Regions from separate parts of the Homo sapiens genome. Here region 1 is linked to region 2. A link means that fine-mapping ties the variant in region 2 to the expression of a gene that starts in the linked region. Tissue or cell type: whole blood. Region 2 holds a variant in brackets; the other region holds the start of a gene. All regions are shown on one strand. Distances are from middle to middle.

Evidence for each region.
Region 1: ADHFE1 starts here. The variant in region 2 is fine-mapped to the expression of ADHFE1 in whole blood (INTERVAL, PIP above 0.99).

Annotation. Positions count from the first base shown.
Region 1 is chr8:66,431,169-66,433,668 of GRCh38, reverse strand. It overlaps ADHFE1 (alcohol dehydrogenase iron containing 1), which reads right to left and starts at 1,165. Exons shown (of 14, transcript NM_144650.3): 1 at 1,094-1,165. The coding sequence starts at 1,152. LOC102724687 (a long non-coding RNA gene) reads left to right here and starts at 1,303. Exons shown (of 5, transcript XR_929013.3): 1 at 1,303-1,385. RefSeq lists a silencer at 912-1,331.
Region 2 is chr8:66,467,123-66,470,067 of GRCh38, reverse strand. ADHFE1 (alcohol dehydrogenase iron containing 1) reads right to left here. Exons shown (of 14, transcript NM_144650.3): 14 at 1,161-1,799. The coding sequence ends at 1,716. Among named protein-coding and RNA genes, the nearest start is that of VXN, 25 kb to the left of the region's middle. The variant A/G (reference allele first, on the strand shown) is at 1,440.

The sequences.
Region 1 (2,500 bases), 36 kb after region 2:
AGCACACAATTCAAATTCCTTACTACAGGCCTAAGAACAAGGACTGTGAAGCCAGAGTATCTGGGTTCAAATTATGACTGTGCCATTTGCTTAGCTGTGTGACACTGGACAAATTCTTCTCCATGCCTTTATTTCCGTATCTATGAGGATGACAATACCGTGTGTCATAGGGTCAGTGAAAGGATTAGAGTTACTATTATACTGATAGTCCATTCAAAGTGTGTAAGACACTGCCGGGCTCATCGTATTAGCTATATTCTTATTCATGGTCTTTTATCAGCCGTCTTCTCCATCTTTACCTCCTCTTATAAAGGTAGGTCTACTTGTCTTTTGTGTCCTGGGACTGCATCTCCATCGCTGGTGTTGCTCTTCTCTCTGCCTGACGTTCCTCGCCAGTCCCTCGCCTTTCCTCCTACTGATCTGCACCTGTGAGCTCAAACTTTTCCATGTTTCCCAGGCAGACTTGTGCACTTGCACAGTCAGCAAGTATTTATCAGGTGACCAGGATGTACCTCACATTTCTGCTGGGAGGCAGGCGTGTCATGACATTGAATACCCTGACTCCCTGTACATGCCAGGAAGTGTGACTCTGCGACTTCTCACATCCATCCTTCCCTTCTACACCCAGTCTGCTATAGCCGGTTTTAGCCTCGTCCCCTCATCCCATTCCCCACTAGACCTCAAACTGCTCCAGAGCCTTTCATCTTTGTATCCCCAGAACCTAGAATAGTTTTTGGCACATAATATATGCCCAATAAATATGTGTCAATTGCATACATGAATTTGTCTTGGCCACCGTGCCAAGCTCTCCACTGCCTGCTACGATGTGGGACCAGGTCCTCTCTGGGCCTCAGTTTCTTTAACGGTAGACAAGCAGAGTAAAGGCTGCCTCACTGCGCCCTGAGAGGCTGCATCGCGCACTCTGTGACCTCGCTGTTCCGCCTGGCGCGCGGTGGGAGCCCAGGGCGGTATCCAAATTCTCCGAATTCTTGAAAGTAAGCGGAGAAGACTGCGCAGGATCTGAGCGGGTCACACCCAGGGGGCTGCGTGGGCACCCTGCGGTCCCCTGCCCGCCCGCCGGCCCCGCACTCACGCTGCGCGTTGCAGTTGCCTCAGCAAGTACGCGACCCGGGCTCGGGCGGCAGCGGCCATGGCGCTTGGAGTCCTCTTCCCTCCTCGGGTCGCTACACCGCCCCCTCCGCCGGCCAATCACGGAGGCTGCCCGCCTCCCGCCCCTCGGCCGCGCCTGCCCACCCGCTTCGCGGGGTCACCTGTCTAAGCCTCAAGCCAGTCGGGCTCAGGGCCATTTTCCCACGGAGTAAGAACCAGAACGCCAGCTGCCCCAGCGGCGCTCGCACCATCCACCCTTGAAATTGCCGTAGAAGGTAACTGCTCCGTAGGCCTCGGGTTCTGCCTTAAATCTCCTTACTTATCAACTCTATTTTTCACATGTTGAGGACTTGGGGGAAGGAAGAGGAACAGGGATATTCTTTTTCCACTGTTAATCCTTTAAAATGTTACTTTCCCTTCTAAGAGTATTTTAAGTGATCAAGACCCTGCCTTTAAACTGTTTTAACAGTAAACAAGAACCTAGCAGAGCCCGAGGGTTTTTGTTAAATACTGTGTGAATGGCTTTGCTTTTGATGAAAGCAAAATCAATAGTTAAAACTCTTACATCAATAGTTAAAACTTGCCATGATTAGACTATGCTCCGGGAGGGCTTGGCTGTGCCATATCTGCCATGTCCCAGTGGAAAAGCTGATTAACGATAAAGCTCAACTTTATCAGAAAGTATCCAAAGACAGTAACAACTAAACATTTGCATTTTTAGTAATCTGTTATTATGAAATCTGAATCCTTTATGGGAGATATTAAGTTTTACAGAAATGAATTTACTGCGATCAAACTGGAAAAGATTGATGGACAGGAAGACCAAGGACAGCTATATAAACATTTCACCTCCTAATCAAACCAGCTCAGGCCAACTTGACAAATGAATCAAAAAATAATGTTCTATGAGAACACATGTACACAGGGAGGGGAACAACACACATTGGGGCCTGGGGGCAGGGGATAGAAGGGGGCAGAGGGACTTAATACTTAGGTGATGGGTTGATAGGTGCAGCAAGCCACCACAGCACACGTTTACCTATGTAACAAACATGCACATCCTGCACATCTACTCCGGAACTTAAAAAAAGATAATAATGTCCTAATTAAGGATCTTATGGGTCTGTTTCTTTCTTCCCCCAAACAAAACTATACCTGACGTCAAGCTTAAAAACAAACACACACACACAAACAACTGGGGATATAAACGTAGAGAAAGATTTAAGTGTTTTCTGGATTAATGAGGATTATTACCATTAGTCAATGAAGCCCAAATTGATCATTTACAGGAAATCCATGTGTTCAGTGTTGAAAGGCATAAAATCTTTTTAAAAAACAGACATCAGTTTTACTACTTTGAATATTATATTTGATACCAAAAGAAGTATAA
Region 2 (2,945 bases):
TCAGTGGGTTAACTTTTGAAAGGAAAAATGAGCTGTCCAGGTTTCTGTAGCCTGGGAATAAAAGGGAGGAAGAGTATCACACTAGTTGGATTCTACTTGCATGCTGTAATCTGTAACCTACAAAACTGCTTCTTTTCGAATTAATGTATTCAGAGCACCAGAAACATTTTTCCAGAGGGAATAACCATGTAGGATGTTAGTTTTTGCTTTTTGTTTTTGTTTTTGTTTTTTTTTTTTTAAACAAAACAAAACAAAAAAACCAACTTATTCACCAGAGGATTGGTCTCTAATATTTTACCCCTGTGGATTTGTTTTTACCTTTTAAATACGTTACTAGTATTTTTATAAAATAAAACGAATCTGACCTAAAACATTAAAATGACATTTTTCTTTCCTTTCCCTTCTCTTTTATAAATGTTAGAAAAGTAATATATGCTTGTTGTAGCAAATCCAAACAATACAGAAGTTTATAAAATAAAAAATGAGGCTGGGAGTGGTGGCTCATGCCTGTAATCCCAGGACTTTGGGAGGCCAAGGCGAGAGGATCACTGGAGCTCAGGAGTTTGAGACCAGCCTGGGCAACATGGCGACACCCCGTGTCTACAAAAAATACAAAAATAAATAAATAAATAAGTCAGGCATGGTGGTGCATGCCTGTAGTCCCGGCTACTCAGCAGATTGAGATGGGAGGATCACCTGAGCCCGGGAAGTGGAGGCTGCAGCGAGTCATGATTGTACCACTGCACTTCAGCCTGGGCAATAGGAGTGAGACCCTGTCTCAAAAAATAAATAAATAGCTACTCAGGAAGCTGAGGCAGGAGAATCACTTGAACCCAGGAGGTGGAGGTTGCAGTGAGCCGAGAACGTACCACTGTACTCCAGCCTGGGAGACAGGGCAAGACTCCATTTCAAAAAAATAAATAAAAATAAATGAATAAATGAATAAATAAATAAATAAAGTGAACATTTTCTCTTAGTTCTCCACACCCCAAATTCCATTTCTCCAGTAATAACTTTTAAATTTTGATGTGTATCTTTCTTTTGTATGTATATGTAGATATATGTTTATGTATAATTGAAAAAGTAAAAATCAGATCATACTAATATATAATTATTTGGTAGCTTGCTTTCTGCCAACTTCCCAGTATATTATGGACTCATTTCCAAGAGATTTACTTCATCTTTATTAACAGTACCATAGTATTCCACTGTCTAGTATACTATAAGTGATCTATATACCAATAATGAATACTTAAGGTTGTTTCAAATCTTTTATTATTAGAAAAGTGCTGCCAGAAACATCCTTGCCATGCTTCTGTATGTACTGGTGCTAGTGTTTCTATCAGATAAATTTTTAGACATGAAGTGAATTACTAGGCATAGGAAATATAATTTACACTTTTGATAGATACTGAGTTTTTGCTCATTTGCTACATGAA[A/G]CAGAGGCAGAGTATTCTGTGTGGGGTTTGGGACAGGAACACTGACCCCTGAAGTCGAGCCTGGGGGTCTAACATAGTGGTCATTTGTCCAGCCTGTTTTATGGAAGGAACTGGACTCTGAGCTTTGGGGAATTTCCTGCAAGATAAATGTATATCCCACCTATACTGGTAACAGGTAAGTTATGCGCAAAGATGAAAAGACAAAGCCCTAGCTAGATCAGCTCTTGCTCTCAGCACTACAATGGCCAGCGGTAATTCTTTCAGTTAAAATGACAATTAATACAGTTTCATTGAAGCTTCAAACAGAGCAGCCAGATCCTCTTCTGACTGGGGACAGGGTGCAAGCTTGGTGACCCTTTCCTGAAACAGTAAATGAAAGAAGTTACCCAGGGCTTTGAAAAGGCAGTTTGTAAAAGCTACAAAGTTATGGAAATTAACTTGGTCATAAGAATCAATGACTTGATAAACGCCATATCTTTAAAAACGGTATTTCTTGTATACTTCATATGAGTTGATCCCCATCTCAGAGGTTTATCACATCATACCTCTTTCCCCACAGAGCTTTCGAAAGCCACTGCCCCTTGCCTTACGCCCTGGCAACAGCCTTCTGCCGAAACCAATCTTGGGGAAAACACCCTTATCATGACAAAACTAGGTCAGTCAACCACCTCTGCCAGGTTCTCTGTACACACAGAGCTCTGAGAGAGAACTGGGTCGTCCCCGAAGTCTAAGACCATGTATTTTGCAACTTGGACTTAAGGCATATTCAAAAGGACTTCAGTAGAACATTAATGTTCATGCTATGTGCAACAAGTGACTCCGTTTTTTTCTATTAACTAAGGTTTTATCTCTATGTTCCCAAGCAAATCCAGTGATTTGTTAATTTCTCCAATGATTATTGAGTCAATTCAGCGAAGACATCCAGCACATCCTACTTCTATTTATACTCTGGTCAGTAGCTTCTCGGGGACAGGGGCTAAAATGTACAGCGATGACTCCCCTGGCACCTGCATGAAACTGAGGAATGTCCATTTTGAGGTTCCATTTTCATGGGTCTCTGGGCATGTTTTCTATTGCTGGCATGTGTTTGGGAGTGTAGCTAGTGGAAGGGAAACTTGTGAGGCCAGGGGCTCAGCTGTGTGCACTGCTCTCTGCCCTGCGCCTACCAGAGGGCTTTACATAGTAAGTAGATGCTCAACAGTTATCTGCTGAATTAGTGAAGATGGTGGGGAGGGGGATACTGGAGTCTCAAAGTTCACATATACAAGATAGAACTCTGACTCTCCCACCCCACCGCTCCTACCATTTTCTCATCTCAGAAATGACACCCAGTAGCTCAGGCAAAACCCAGGAGCCACACTTGATTCCCCTTTCCCTTGCTCTGCAAGTTCAACTCATCAGCAGGAGTGTCAGTCCTACTTCCAAAATGAAGCCCCAGTCAGAGCGCTTCTCACCTCCTGTGGTACCACAACCGGAATCCAGGACACTGCTATCACTCGCCTGTCC